Linked DNA regions of Homo sapiens: region 2 is linked to region 1. The links come from fine-mapping of genetic effects on gene expression. Tissue or cell type: whole blood. Region 1 holds a variant in brackets; the other region holds the start of a gene. All regions are shown on one strand. Distances are between the middles of the regions.

What was found. PIP is the estimated chance that this variant, and not a neighbour inherited with it, causes the effect.
Region 2: it holds the start of ALOX12, and the variant in region 1 is fine-mapped to the expression of ALOX12 in whole blood (TOPMed, PIP above 0.99).

Annotation. Positions count from the first base shown.
Region 1 is chr17:6,915,842-6,924,103 of GRCh38, reverse strand. No RefSeq gene overlaps it. Among named protein-coding and RNA genes, the nearest start is that of ALOX12, 76 kb to the left of the region's middle. The variant G/A (reference allele first, on the strand shown) is at 4,875.
Region 2 is chr17:6,992,981-7,000,980 of GRCh38, reverse strand. ALOX12 (arachidonate 12-lipoxygenase, 12S type) reads right to left here and starts at 4,932. Exons shown (of 14, transcript NM_000697.3): 1 at 4,729-4,932; 2 at 3,954-4,155; 3 at 2,391-2,472; 4 at 2,144-2,266; 5 at 1,925-2,028; 6 at 1,515-1,675; 7 at 502-645. The coding sequence starts at 4,863. The region is part of intron 2 of ALOX12-AS1 (ALOX12 antisense RNA 1); the gene reads left to right.

The DNA.
Region 1 (8,262 bases):
AATAGGATTAAGGTGTGGCTGGATCAGATGTCATCAGTACTCTGCCTTCCTTTCTATTCCTTCTTATTCTTTTTTTTTTTTTTTTTTTTTTTTTTTTTTTTGAGAGAGAGTCTTGCTCTGTCACCCAGGCTGGAGTGCAATGGCTTGATCTTGGCTCACTGCAACTTCTGCCCCCTGGGCTCAAGTGATTCTCTTGCCTCACCTCTTGAGTAGCTGGGATTACAGGTGCCCGCCACCATGCCCGGCTAATTTTTGTATTTTTAGTAGAGACGGGGTTTCACCATGTTGGCCAGCCTGCTCTCGAACTCCTCAGGTGATCCGCCCTCAGGTGATCCGTCCGCCTTGGCCTCCCAAAGTGCTGGGATTACAGGTATGAGCCATCATGCCCGGCCGGAAAGGGTTTCTTAATGAGAGCTGATGGGATGGGATTTGAACTGGCAGGAAATAAAGTGGCAGATACTCCTTTGGGCGGCTGCATCAGCAAGAATGGAATCAGGGAGTTGAGACGAGGTGGGACAGGTAGGAGGAAGCCAACTCTCACTTCCTCCTTCTCTCCCCATTTATCTTCTTTTTTACCCTGAGCAGATACCTGTCATCCTTTTTTTCATTTAATATTATATCATAAGCATTTTCCATGTTGCTAATGTATTTTCTCAATAAACTTTTTATTTTGGAATAATTTTAGACGCACAGAGAATTAATGAAGACAACAGAGAGTTCTTGTATTCCCCTCCCCCAGTTTGCTTCTCCTGATGTTCTCATCTCACATGACTGGTCAATTGTCATAACTAAGAAACCACTCTTGTATGTTACTATTTTTATTTTTGAGACAGGGTCTCACTCTGTCACCCAGGCTGGAGTGCACAGGCACAATTTCAGCTCACTACAACCTCCACCTCCTAGGCTCAAGCGATCCTCCCACTTCAGCCTCCTGAGTTGCCAGGACTACAGGCAAAAATTAAATGGGTGTGGTAGCATGTGCCTGTAGTTTCAGCTACTTGTGAGGCTGAGAAGAAGAATCGCTTGAACCCAGGAGGTGGAGGTTACAGTGAGCCGAGATCGCGCTACTGCACTCCAGCCTGGCGACACAGTGAGTCTCTGTCTCAAAAAAAAAAAAAAAAAAAAATGCTGGAAACAATAAGTGGAGGGAAAGTAACAGGTACGGGAACCACCATGAACAAAACATTAGAGGCAGAAACAAGCTCTCTTTTTATGTTGGCCCCTGGGACAGTTTACTCTTCTCCCCACAAAGAGTAGCTGACCAACACTTGGAGGAAACTATGTCAAAGAGTTTAAAGCCTGGAGTGGAAAGATTAGGGGTGTGCTGGGGGAGAGACGGGGTGCTGAGAAGGAGGGAAGAGGCATGGCTGGAGAGAGAGAGAGAGAGATGTGGGAGAGCAAAGTGACTTGTCACCACTGCTTTTTGGCTGGCGTGGCAGTGGGGATAATTATTAAAATAATCACTACTAATTGTAAAAATTCATGGACAATAGAAGGGAACATCCTCAGCTCCTTTTCACCACTTTTTTGTTTGCTTTTTGTTTTTTAACTGCTCCTAACAATCTGGTGTATTTCTTCACATGCTTTCTTCCTGTGCATACAAACCATAAGAATACAAACTTACAGGATACCAGGCAACACCAACCTCCTAAGCCTCGAACCTCTCTCTGCCACTGGCTGCTTCGTCCCTGTGCTGGTTCTCCTCCTAACCTCCAGGTGGGCTCTCTATTCTTTCCCCTTCCTTCTCTCTTTTTTTTTTTTTCTGATTGAGACAAAGTCTCACTCTGTCACCAGACTGGAGTGCAGTGGTGTGATCTCGGCTCACTGCAACCTCTGCCTCCCAGGTTCAAGCGATTCTTGTGCTTCAGCCTCCGAGTAGCTGGGACTACAGGCGTGCACCACCACACCTGGCTAATTTTTGTATTTTTTTTTTTTTTTGAGACAGAGTCTTGCTCCTTTGCCCAGGCTGGAGTGCAGTGGTGCGATCTTGGCTCACTGCAACCTCTGCCTCCCGGGTTCAAGCAATTCTCCTGCCTCAGCCTCCTGAGTAGGTGGGATTACAGGCACCCGCCACCACGCCCAGCTAATTTTTTTGTATTTTCAGTGGAGATGGGGTTTCACCATGTTGGTCAGGCTGGTCTCAAACCCCTAACCTCATGATCCACCTGCCTTGGCCTCCCAAAGTGCTGGGATTATAGGCGTGAGCCACCGTGCCCAGCCAATTTTTGTATTTTTAGTAGAGATGGAGTTTCACCATGTTGGCCAGGCTGGTCTCGAACTCCTGACCTCAGGTGATCCATCCGCCTCGGCCTCCCAAAGTGCTGGGATTACAGGCATGAGCCACGGCGCCTGGCCCCCTTCCTCCTCCTGAAAAGGCGGATCTCAAGGCTCAGTCCTGCTCTTCCCTCCACATCCTTTGCTCTTGCAGGTCTCCTCTTCCACGCAGGTGGCTCCCTCATCTCCTCTTCAATATCTGACTTCTCTCAAAAGTTCCAAGTCTGGATTTGCCATTACTTGCTGGACATCTCTTCCTTTATCTCATACCCACCACTGCTCATAAAGATTTGTCGACGACCAAAGTCAGTCATTTGTCTCAGTTTCCTTCTTTAAGCTTTCCATTTTTTATCACTGGCATTTGTGTATACCCAAAGTCATGGGCTCAAAACATTGGCCTTATCCTTGACTTTTCTCATTAACATCCAGCTCTAACTGGTTCTTCTCCTGTAATATCTTTCTCCTCCATCCCATAGTTTCAGTCTATTTTACCACCTAGATCATGATAGACTTCCTACCATGAATCTGTCCCCACTCCAACCCATCTCCTTACAGCTGCCACATGAACCTTTATAAAATGCTATTTACGTGTTAATCCTCTTCCTCCTGAACACAGAATTCCTCACCTTCTTGCTTACCTGCCACTGTCCCAATTTCTAATCCTGGTAATTATACCTCCCACCGTCTACCACCAAACTGTCTTCCTAGACTCACCTCCTGCTCTTCCCACGCCCGTGTTCCACTCCAGCCCAAATCATTTAGTTATTGGTCTCTTAAAACACTGCATTTGCTGACTCCTGGGTCTTTCCTTGAGCCACTAACTCAATCTGAAATTTTGATCTCCTTTTTTTTGAACTTGTTGAAGAACTTTTTTCCCAGCTCAAATCCCAGTCAAGCCCTGTCTCTTTCAAGAAGCATTCTTTTAGCTGGGCGTGGTGGCTCATATTTGTAATCCCAGCACTCTGGGAGTCTGAGGTGGGAGGATTGCTTGAGCCCTGGAGTTGAGACTAGCCTGGACAACATAGTGGGACCCCATCTTCACACACACACACACACACACACACACACAAAGCATTTTTTGACCACCTCCACAGTCCATGGAACTGACCCTTCCAAAACCTGAGGCCAATGCTTATTGATAGACTGGGTTGGTATTTACATATTATATATTATCTCTTTGGCCTCCCTGAGTTTCCCCTGTGCAGAGACTCTACCTATCTCTATTTACCTTCTATTTCTCTATTTATCTTCAGTGCCTGGCACAGGATCTGGACATCATAGATGTTCAATAACTTTTTGAAAAAATTATTTATATATTGAGAGACAGGGTCTCTCTCTGTCACCTAGGCTGGAATGCAGTGGCATGATCATAGTTCACCACAGCCTTGAATTCCTTGGGTCAAGGGATCCTCCAGCCCCAGTCTCCCAGGTAGCTAGGACTACAGGTGCAGGCCACCACACCTGGCTACCATTTTTTTTTTTTAACTTTTCATAGAGATGGGGGTCTGGCTATGTTGCCCAAGCTGGTCTTGAACTTCTGGCCCCAAGCATTCCTCCTGCTTTGTCCTCCCAAAGTGCTAGGATTACAGGCATGTGCCACCATGCCTAGTCTCAATAGCTTTTATGTAGAATGATTATGCTTATGCATAGGTTGAAGGTTTGAAGGCAAGAAGATAAAGTTTGGGGAATAAACAGGGGACATGTTATAGGAATGGATGAAGGATAAAACTGTGGTGGGGACACAGGGTTAAAGGAGAGGCAAAATTGGGTTTGGGGATTAAGATCGCAGAAGAGGGATACGAGTATGAGATTGTGTGAGACTGTCCTACATGTCATTGGCAGTGCTCATGTTAGAGGGACCATCTGGATGTGCTCATGAAGTTGTTGGGTGAGAACCAGATGGGCCTCAGGGTAGGGAAAATTAGGTGGAGTTTGGCCTCCTCAGATCTACAAAGGCAGACAACCCAGTGAATTACTTACTTAATTTGACTCTTGTAGAGGCTCAAAGAAGCCCGTCCTGGAAGGTCTAGCTGCTTGTTTCACAAAGGCCAAAGACAGGGAAGTATTTTGTTTACTGGATTCATTCAGAAAAGTATTTATTGAGCATATACTATGCACCAGGCATTGAGAACATAGAGATTTTGTTTTCCCTCAAGGAGTTCCTAGTCTAGTGGGGGGAAACAAAGACATAAAAAGTAAATGCAACAGTGTGTTACAATGGAGAAAGAATCCCGTGTGGGGTATTATGGGGGCACAAAGCAGGGAGGGATAGGTTCACCTCGAGGAGATAGAAAAGGCTTCTCAGGGAGGCAACTTGAGCTGAGTCTTTAAATCTGTGTAGATATCTACCGGGTTGATGGGAATGAAGGACAGTTGGGGAGAGGGTAGGCATTCTGGGCAAACAGACAGCAAGAGTTGCAGGGAGCTGATGAAATTTCAGGGAAATTCATGAATTTTGGGTCAGGAAGAGATGAGTGATGTGGTTGCACAGAAAACAGGAGACCCATGAGGAGACGTCTTTGGTGTGCTGGGGAGAGATAATAAAGGCCTGCAGCAAGCAGGGGAAGCAGGAATGGAGACGGGCAGGGTGGAAGACATGC[G/A]AAGGAAGTGGAGCGGTCAGGACTCCATTGTTTAATTGGTGATGACAGGAAGAGAAAGAGAAAGAGTAGACTGTGTGAGAGAGAGCAGAAGAGAAGGAAAGATTGGTCATTGTTACTCCCTGGTTCTTGGCTGGGGTAACTAGGTATATGATGTGTGTGTATTTGCTGAGATGTGGGACACATAAGGACTAGAAGAGTTGCTTGGTTTTTGATAACCAAGTCTGAGGTGCTTTTGGGAATCATGGCCCACTTAACTTTCCACTCCTTTTCATCTGTGAAAGCTCTGATGTCTGAGAAAGGTCAAAGGGCTCCTTGGTAGAGAACTATAAGCAAGTACGATCCAACTTAAAAATAACTTACTGAACATTCACTATGTGCCAGACACAGTGTGGTCCACGCTAATCTCCGAGGGGGCAGGGACTCTGACTTGTTCACGTTTGCATTCCAGTGCCTCATACAGAGGCTGACACACAGTGGACATTCAATTAATATTTGTTGAATGGATGACAAGACATGAATGAATATAACGGTTAATGGGCAGTAGGAATATAGTAATGAGAATCTCCTGATGCCTCCTTTTGGGAGCAAGCTGTCTGGTTGGGGCGACAAATGTATAGACAACCAGTGTCCAAAGAGCATATTAAATACTTGAATAGAGGTTGGATGTAAGGGCAATGGGGACTGAAGAGAAAGGAGGAGTGACTGAGCCCTCGTGTTGGATTTTTAAGGATATGTACAAGTTTTCTAGGCAAAGAGGAAAAGAAATCCCAGGAAGAAGGAATAGACCATATCAAGGCTTAGAGGGGTGTAAATGTGTGGCATGGTTCTCAGAATAACAAAATGTTTAATGCATCTGAATTCTACATGGCGATCATAATACCTGCCATCCCCTTATAAGGAAATCTGCCCCATCCACAGTCAGAGGTGTACTTGGATGGGACCACTCCCCAGACAAAAGAGCAGGGTCAGTTTCTCACTATGGGTGTGTGTGTGTGTGTGTGTTGATCTGGAAAATACAGAGAGGATCAGGCAGTTAGCAATAGGAACAAAGACGGAGAGAAGCCAGAGGGGCCAAGATGGCCATGGGGAACAGAAGTTACAAAGAAGTAGAACCTCATGGTAGAGAAAAGACATGCTGAGCAGAGGGAGAAGCCGTGGTTATTTTTTTGGCTGAGAGCAGATGAACTCAGATGGTCAGCCCATTAATCACATCTGTGTATATTAAAAATCTTTTAGTCATGTTAAAATATTTGCTTCTAACCATCAAATATATTTTAAAGAACTCATTAGGAGAGGGATAGTCTGTTATATTTACCCAGATATTTAATGTTTCTGTTGTTCTCGCTTGATTCCCCGTGTTCCAGGTTTCCTTCTCACATCACTTCCCTTCTGTCTGAAGAAATTTCTTAAGCAATTCTTTTAGATTACATATGCTGGAAATTGATTGTCTTAGTTTTTTTTTCTTCTTTTCATCTGAGAATGTCATCATTTCACCTTCATTTCTCAAAGATATTTTTTTCTGGATATAGAATTCTGAGTTGATAGCTCTTTTCTTTCAGCACTTTAAAAATATTATTCTACTTTCTTTTTTTAAAAAAATTTTCTTTCCACAGGTTATTGGGGAACAGGTGGTGTTTGGTTACCTGAGTAAGTTCTTTAGTGGTGATTTATGAGATTTTGGTGCACCCATTACCTGAGCAGTAAACACTGCACCCAATTTGTGTTCTTTAATCCTTCACCCTCTTCCCGCCCTTTCCCCCTGAGTCCCCAAATTCTATTGTGTCATTCTTATGCCTTTGCATCCTCATAGCTTAGCTCCCACTTATGAGTGAGAATATAGGATATTTGGTTTTCCATTCCTGAGTTACTTCACTTAGAATAATAGTCTCCAGTTGCATCCAGGTTGCTGCCATTAACTCGTTGCTTTTTATGGCTGAGTAGTATTCCATCGTATGTATGTGTATATGCATATCACAGTTTCTTTATCCACTTGTTGATTGATGGGCATTTTGGTTGGTTCCACAGTTTCGCAATTGCGAATTGTGCTGCTATAAACATGTGTGTGCAAGTACCTTTTTTGTATAATGACTTCTTTTCCTCTGGGTAGATGCCCAGTAGTGGGATTGCTGGATCGAATGGTAGTTCTACTTTTAGTTCTCTGTGAATCTCCACACTGTTTTCCATAGTGGTTGTACTAGTTTACATTCCCACCAGCAGTGTAGAAGTGTTCCCTGTTCACTACATCCGTGCCAACGTCTATTATGTTTTGATTTTTTTGATGATGGCCATTCTTGCAGGAGTAAGGTGGTATCACATTGTGGTTTTGATTTGTGTTTTCCTGATTAGTGATGTTGAGCATTTTTCATATGTTGGTCATTTTGTATATCTTGAGAATTGTTGTCTATTCATGTCCTTAGCCCACTTTTTGATGGGATTGTTGTTTTCTTGCTAATTCGTTTGAGTTTGTTGTAGATTCTGGATATTAGTGCTTTGTCAGATGAATCTTCTGGCCTCCATTGTTTTTGATGAGAACCCTGCAGTCATTCAAATTATTATTTCTCTATGGGAAATACATTGCTTTTCTCTGCTTGCTTTCAAGATTTTTTTCTTTGGCTTTAGTTTTCACTAGTTTGATTGTGATTATCTGGATGAGGATTTGTTTGTTTTATCCTGTTGGTGATTTGTTGAGATTTTCGAAGCTGTAAGTTATATCTTTTATGAAATTTGAAAAATTGGAAGTCGTTATTTATTTTTTTTGTGCACCACACACTCTTATCTTTCTTTGACTCTGATGACATGAATGTTAGACCTTTTGGTTTTGTCCTTCATGTCCTTGAGACTCTATTTACTTAAACAATTTTTTCTTGATGTCATTCAAATTGCATAGTTTCTATTGAGCTATCTTCAAATTCACTGACTGTTTCCTTTGCTGTCTCCATTCTGCTGCAAGCTCACTCAGTGAGCTAAAACTTTTTTTAAAAATTTATTTTATTATTAATTTATTAATGGGGTACAGGTGGTTTTTGGTGACATGGATGAATTATATAGCGGTGAAGTCTGAGATTTTGGTGCACCCGTCACCTGAATGGTGTACATTGTACCTAATGCATAGATTTTGTTCCCTTGGTCCTCTTCCCACCCTCCTGAATCTCCTTCTGAATCTCTAAAGTCCGTTATATCACTCTGTATGCCTTTGCGTATTCCTAGCTTAGCTCTCACTTATAAGTGAGAACATACAGTGTTTGGTTTTCCATTCCATTATCTCCTAGGGGGTTGGAATGGTAGAGGTTTCTTAAAGCTTATCTCCTTCTCCCATCTCATGCACTTTTTATTTATTTATTTTCCCCCAGTATTTTATTTACTGGTTTGATGGTTCAGGTTTCAGGCC
Region 2 (8,000 bases), 77 kb before region 1:
AGTGAGATTCTGTCTCAAAAAAAAAAAAGAAATTGCGAGAAAAGATATTCAAGAGATGGCGAGGGTTCAGAGCCAGAGGCCACTGAGAGATGAGATAGTGATTCTGAAAGTGTAGTCCTGAACTGGTAGTGTCAGCATCACTTTGGAACTTATAAAAACGCAAACTCTTAGTTCCCACCCCAGACATACTGAATCAGAAAGTCTGGTCATGGGATCCAGAAATCTGCATTTCAACAGGCATTCAGGTGATTCTGATGCACACTGAAGTGTGAGGACCATTGGATACAGGATGAGAACTCCAGGAGGCCATTTTGACTCTTGAAAAAGTAATTCTAGTTGGATGAGGCAGGGGAGACGAGGGTACAGGCAAATAGTGACATGAAGACAAGTCTCACTGAGTGAGGATGGGGTTTGGGAGCCAAGAGCTGGGGGTTGGGTCCCTGGGAGCAGAGGTTGAGGTGAACAGAGTGCAACGTTGTGGGAGAGGTCTGGGGCCCTTACCTGGATGACCATGGGCTGCAGCTTCCCATTGGGCTCCATCTTCAGCATAACGAGGGGGGCAGCCAGGTATTGCTTCTCTCCTCGGATCACGTTGGCTGGAATTCCATCCAGAAGGATGAAGTCAGCTTCAAACAGGGAACCATTCTGGGGACAGGAGGGATGTATCCATTTTTAGAGTTCAAAGTCTACCCCCAGGGGGCCGGGGCAAAGGGCAAGAGATTTAGTCTAGCTTCTTGCCATTCTCCTGCATCAGTACCGGAGCCCTGTTGGGAGAACTAGAGCCCCTGGTCCAGTTCCTCTCATCTTAAAGTGAAGAAACAGTCTGGTGAGGGTAGATGTCTTGTGTGTGGATGTGGTGGCAGATCTGGGTTTGGAACCAGGCCTGCTCAATCCAGTTGGCATCACAGGCATTGTAAACTGACCACCTGTCAAATGGCCAGGCCCCTTTCTGATCATTCCCGAATGGTCTGCGCTCTGGTTTTGGCTCCTATCAGCTCAGCAAATGCTCTTTCATTCCCTATTCAAATCTCACATCCTCTGCCAAATATTCCAGAGAGCTTCCCCTACTACCCCTGCCACCGCATACAGCACACACATGCATACGCACACATTTTGCCTAGGCTTGTCCTCAGTACAGTCCATTGCTTCCAAACCCCGCTCTCTTTTTCTAGAAAGCCTCCCCGATTCTCCCCACCTGATGGCACTTCCTCACTTTTCTCCCTGCCCATGAACACTGGAGTCCAGAACACTGCGGCCAGGCAATGTCACTGTTCCTGCTAACATCTCCAGCCCCTCTCTGTGTGCTGGGGATCCATTCTATTTTCCCCTTCCTGCTGGGAGCTCCTCATAGTTTCTTCCCCTACATATTTTATTTCTGTATTTTTCCAGCACAGGACTGCACCAAGGGGCAATGCAGTACTGCAGCCTTCCTCTGACTCAGTTTGGATTCTCTCTGTCCGTTCTCACCACACTACTAAGGAGAGAACAGTGCCAGGCAGGGGAAGGAGAGGTACCTGAAGTTCTTTCTCCAGTTGAGCCTGAAGCTCTTCCATCCCCGAGGGCAGCACTAGCCTGGAGGGCAGAGAGGTCGAGCGTCTCAACAGCATGGGGTTGGCACCATTGAGGAACTGGTAGCTGAACAACTCATCATCCTGCCAGCACTGGCGAACCTTCTCTTTGGTGGGCGGTGAAAGGAGGATATATGTACCACAGCCTGCATATCCCTTCTCCAAAATCTACCCCAGGGGTTCAGGTATATAACCCTCCCTGAACCCAGCTTCTGCGTTTTCATTCTCAAGGCCTCTCTGAGTTGACCAGATATGATAAGGTCTCTTCTTGCAAAGAGTTACGGGGGACTGTGGAGTGTGATGAGTCATCCAGAGGGGCCATTAAGGGATTATGGAGACCTCGGGGAACCACTGACCAGCCAGGGCACTCTTCTGGCCCCAGAAGATCTGATCAAAGTCTTCTAGGCAGTTCCAGGAGCTCAGGAGGGTGTAAACACGTTTGAGGGCCATCTCCAGAGCCCTAGGACAGGTATTGAGGCTTAACTCATCAGCTGATCCCTCAGTCCCTCACCGTCTATCATCATTCTTGGCCCTCCCAGCCCTTATTTCACTCCGAGGTCTAGCCTTTTTCTCACCCTGCCTTCAGTGTCCATTCAAAGTCCAGCCTCTTCTCCTCATGGAATCTCATATTTGGAGGTAGATCATCCTTACGGTCTGCAGCGATGGTCAGGGGTAACCCTTCCTTCCAGGTGGCCCAGCTAGGAGTTGGGGACAAAGCTTCAGGAAGGATGTCATGGTCAGTGATGGGGCCAGGGGCAGGGGCAGGGGCAGGGAAGGGGTGGGACAGTGGTGGCGGGGTTAGTTTAAGGGGTGGGTGGTCACCAGTAGATCTGCTGTCTGTCTTTCAGTTCCTTCTCTCGATGCTTCTGGAACATGTCCAAAGCATTGTCTCCTGGCAGGCGGGCTGGGGAGACATCAAGACAATTGGCCTCACGGCTCTGTCTGGTCCTATGCCCGCCTCTTGTCCTCATCTCCCTGTGGTTAGCCGTATTCCATGTTTTCAGCCATGCACTGTTGCTTTTATCTCTGGCTTTGCCTCATTTGATTATCCACCAGACACGTTTATCCCATCTTTGCCAACTTTGCACTCCTGCTTTCTCTTATTTCAGCCCTCATCCTTTGCCTGTAGATAAAAACCTCCTGTTTGCCACCATTTCTTGCTCCTTCACTCATCTTCCCCTACCTGGCCTTACTTCATCAATATCTATGGTTGGAAAAAAATCACCTTAATTAAGGTGATGAAATCTTAGTCACCTATACACCTACACCTACTGTCTACTACAGATTGCTTTGATTAATTTCACATCTTAAACCTCACCTGCCACGCCTTCACCTGTCCTCAAAAGATTCTACATTTGCTTTTTTTTTTTTAAACCTCATCTTTCTGGATTTACTATCATAATCTGTATCTATGGACTTATTCTGGGTCTTTTCTGCATTTACACTCACCTGTCTCAAAGTCATAGATTTGATGTTCCATCCCTACTGCCCTCACTCATCTCTGGATTCATCTCTCTTTTACTCATTACCCATGGTTAAAAATTCACTATTTGGGCCGGGCGTGGTGGCTCAAGCCTGTAATCCCAGCACTTTGAGAGGCCAAGGAGGGCGGATCACGAGGTCAGGAGATCGAGACCATCCTGGCTAATACGGTGAAACTCCATCTCTACTAAAAAAAATATAAAAAATTAGCCGGGTGTGGTGGGGGGTGCCTGTAGTCCCAGCTACTCGGGAGGCTGAGGCAGGAGAATGGCGTGAACCCAGGAGGTGGAGGTTGCAGTGAGCCAAGATCGCACCACTGCACTCCAGCCTGGGCAACAAAGCAAGACTCCATCTCAAAAAAAAAAAAAAAAAAAATTCACTATTTGCCATCCTCATTCCTCCTCGTCTCCTGCGGGCCAGTGTGCTTCTTGTCTTTCACGGGTGTCTTCCGTGTTATTCCAACCAAACCAGCTCTCCAGCATCCTATGTTTTCTTCCCTTAGCTGTCTGCTCTCACGGGTCACCCACCCCCTCCTGTTCCATGTGGTCCCCTCACCTGACTTCTGAGTCACCTTTACATCTCCTTCCTACTTTCACTTTGCTTCTCTGTTTTCCTGGATCGCTGCAACTCCCACTTTCTGTCTTTGCCTTCTTGGAAGATGGGATCTCCAGATCACTTACTCCCTGCCTCCAGCCTCACACGCAGCCTCTCTTAGCCTGTGTAAAACTTTGGGAATTCATAACTCCTTCCCGTTTTCTGTCCAGCACCCTGGGATCCCTACATTTCACCTGCCCTGGGCCCATACATCCTCTAAGTCTGCTCCGACCGTCCTTAACTCTGCCCTCCTAGCCCCGCAGCAGTTCCCGAGACCTTGTGCCTCCTTCCCCGACGCCGCCTGCTCACCGGTGCCCTCGGGCAGGCTCAGGATGTCCTCGCCCTGCACCCAGCGGTAGCACGGGAAGGCCACCTCCGCGCAGGCTCCAGGGCCCTGCACCGTGATGCGGTCGCAGAACCACGCGTCGTCCACCAGCCAGTGGTGCTTGCGCAGCCTCACGAACTGCAGGAGCCCCAAGTCCTCTGCAACGTCATGATCAAACTCCTCCTCCTGTGCAGGCCGGACCCAGGCCAGACTTAGTAGGAGGGACCCGACTGAGGCCGTTTCGAGGACAGAGCCGCGCTCCTGTGCAACCTCAGTTTCTCAGGGCCTCCAAAGACAGCATCGCCTCGTTCCCGCCCCCGCACAACCTGCTCTTTGGGTCTCAGACGCCCGGAGTCGGGTGGAGGACGAGGGCCCGCAGCGCCTGGAGCTGATGCTGGAGCAGCATCGCCCACGTGGGTCCCATTAACTGAGCTCTCCCCGCGCCGGTTCTTGGAGGAGCTTCACGTCTGACCTCTGGCCTCATACTTACATTGGCTCTGGGTCACTGGGAGAAGGAGCTGGGGGCTGCCGGGACCAGGGGCGGGAAAGGGAGATGGGGTTGAGCCCAGCCCGGGATCCCAGCTGCGGACCCTGTCCCTAATCTTGCCCACCTCGTCCCAGCTTCGTGGAAGTCCCAGTCCGCGAGGTCGCGCTGTCACCTCGCCCCCAGCCTCCCGCCCTCCCGCCGCGAGCCCAGCTCGGCCCGGGCCTGGGCCCGGGGTCCCCGCTGCCCTAGCTCCCCTCGCTCCCCGCGCTGACCTCGCCCCGCGCGGGCCGCAGCTGCAGCTCCAGCTCCGCCTCCCCGCGCGTCCCGACCAGCCAAAGCTGCACGCGGTTGTACGACCCGGAGAAGAGCCAGGCCCCGGTGGCCACGCGGATGCGGTAGCGGCCCATGGCGCCCCCCAGCAGCTTAGGCGAGGGGAGCCGGGTCCTGTGCGATTCCCGGGACCGCCCAGGGCTGCCGGCGCCTCGGGGCCACTTCCAACCTTTAAAGGACCGGTCTGCGGCCCCGCCCTCCTCGCAAGTTTTAGGCGCTCCCAAGTCCCCGCCCCAGACTAGCCCAAACCTGCGAGCAGAGCGGTAGAGCCGGCTGTGGGGACTGGCTGTGCCTCCTGGTCGGAGCGTAGCTGCAGGATGATAAAGGGGCCCGAGCCAGGGTGAGGCCAACGGGGTGGGTGCGGCGGGACCTTCCTGGACCTCCCGGGAAGGCGGGATCGAGGTGGGCCTGAGCCCCCGGGTTGGAGCGAACATAGATGAGAACACTTCCCGAGGTCTCCAGGTCTTCTGGGGAGCCAGGAGGAAGTAGGGGATGAGTCCATCTTCCAAACGGAGGGGAAGGTCTCCGCTTTTCTGGGCTGGGACCCGGGGAAGGCAGTGGGCCGGCTTCTGGAAGGTCGGCCTGGGAGGCCGTGCTGGGGTCTGGGGATGTCCCGCGGCTAGACCCGGCGCGGCCCATGTGTCCTCCAGTACCTGAGCTCTGCCGCCCTTGAACGCTGTGCTTCCGTCAACGACCAGGGGTTCCCCAGGGTACCTAGAACCTGGAAATGTAGCAGCTCAACACCCGCTCCCCACCCCGTTTCAAATATCTGGGCGCTGGGGTCCCAATGTACACCAAATATCATGGGCCAGACCTTTGAGAGAGGCCTGAGGCAGGGCAGTGAAAAACTCATTTTGTCCAACCTCCGAAGCGGGTACAGACAATGTTAGGGACCCAGGAACACCAGTCGGGGTGTTAGGGTGCGGGATGGAATTGCTTAGGGACCTGGCCTACGTGGCCAGTTCCCAAGAACTTTGTCTTTTCCAGGTGAGTGCAGCCCCTTCCGCTCCAGTAGGTTCCAGATTAATTTTTTATCCCCAAGCTCTTTCCTGCTCCTTCATGGGTCTCAGGTCTCCTGGAAATCCAGGAACAGCAATTAGCCCACTGCTATTTAGGGCCTTTGTAAACATTGAAGGATGATTCGGAGCTTAGGCTTTCTCTCCCGTGTCAGGAATCAGTCAGATGAAGCCTGCTGCACGCGTCCCTGTCTAGATCTTGATTCAAGTGATTATATGCATTTGGATCTCCGTGGATGCATCTGGTGGCCTGGGCTAGGCCAGTGTAAGTTAAATCTGCTTTCTTGAGCCAGTCCTCAGAAATGACTTGGTGGCCTAGTTGTTGGTAGAGGTAAGTGAGTGGGAGTTTTAGCCCCGCCTTCCAGCCTCCAGATCAGACTCTATCTCAAAAATAAATAAATAAATAAATAAAAATAAAAAAATAAAGTGTCTGTCCCTTACTGGATTCAATTCCCTTTCTTATCTTCTAGGTCCACTCTGGCCTACATCCTCTGCTCAGGACTGCAGGTCGGCCATTTGCTGGTCCCCAGTTCTTCCAGTTTTCTGGGGTCACCCCATTCTGTAATATCCAAATAAAATGGCTCAAATTCCCATCCTGCCTAATAGTAGGATCTGGCCTTTCCACACACATTTTCGTGGGTTACTTTTGCCTAGAAAAGAGTTTGTCTCATACCTACTTCCAAAAGCACTGTTTCTTTGCTGTTTTGTGACTTATTTTCTGCCCACTCTAGTGTACTCTACGGCCACGTGCAGAGAGAGGGAATGAATAATTGAAAAACCGGATTCAAGCTACTGCGCATGCTAAATGAGTGAATATGGCTAAACAGTGAGAACAGTGCTTGGCGTGTAGTCCCTCTATGTATTAGCTGCTATGATTGTATTATTTACAACTGAATGTTAGCGTTGCTCCTCTACCGTTCCTCTCCGCATGCTATTTCTCCATGTCCCTCTCTAGGCCTAGCCTCTCACTAGAGCTCTTATCACTCTAGACCCTTCCCCCTCCTGCTTTTGTTTCCCTTTTAAGCACATGCGCTATGTTGGGAGAATATAATTAGAAGCAAAATTTTCTCCCAACCCAGAAAAAACCTCTCCACGAAAGTAGTGAAGAAAGAAAACAGTTTTATTATTGAATAAGCATTAAACCAGAATGTGAGCACATCACAGGCAGTTTGCTAAGAGACTGCAAAGACAGAAGGAAGTCTCACTTTTATCTAGCCAAGCAGATACAGCCCATTACATATGTGTTCTCAAGATAAACTATAAATAATCTTTAGGAGGACTCGATAGCACCATTTGTCACATATAGTGCAGTCTAGAGACACCTGGCAATTGTGATGACCATCTATGTTAGCTAACTGGCTTAATCAGAAGAAAAACTTCTCTTTTTTTTTTGAGATAGAGTCTTGCTCTGTTGCCCAGGCTAGAGTGCAGTGGCGTGATCTCGGCTCACTGCAACCTCCACCTCCCAGGTTCAAGCGATTCTCTTGCCTCAGCTTCCTGAGTAGCTGGGATTACAGGTGTGCACCACCAAGCCTGGCTAGTTTTTGTATTTTTAGTAGAGACGAGGTTTTGCCATGTTGGCCAGGCTGGTCTTAAACTCCTGACCTCAGATGATCCACCCACCTCGGCTTCCCAAAGTGCTGGGATTACAGGCGTGAGCCACCATGCCCAGCCAGCTTTTCAGATTTTTATGACAGCAGATAGTTTTGCAGCTCAAGCAAAGTGTCCATTTAAGTTAGTCCTACCCTCCCACAGAAACTGGGAAATGAAGGCTCCATCTTTCTTGGTGTTTACATTTCAAGGAGATGGCTCCTGGGTCTTTGTGAAAGACATCCCTGGGTAGTAAAGCTGGCAAGAGGCTGTGTGGCTTCTAAAAATATTTATACACGTTTTGAAGACACAGAAAATAACTTACAAGTTTTCTGGCTGGGTGCGGTGGCTCACGCCTGTAATCCCCGCACTTTGGGAGGCTGAGGTGGGTGGATCACCTGAGGTCAGGAGTTTGAGACCAGTCTGGCCAACATGGGGAAACCCCATCTCTACTAAAAATACAAAAAATTAGCCAGGCGTGGTAGAGGATGCCTGTAATCCCACCTACTTGGGAGGCTGAGGCAGGAGAATTGCTTGAACCCGGGAGGCGGAGGTTGCGGTGAGCTGAGATTGTGCCACTGTACTCCAGCCTGGGCAACAAGAGTGAG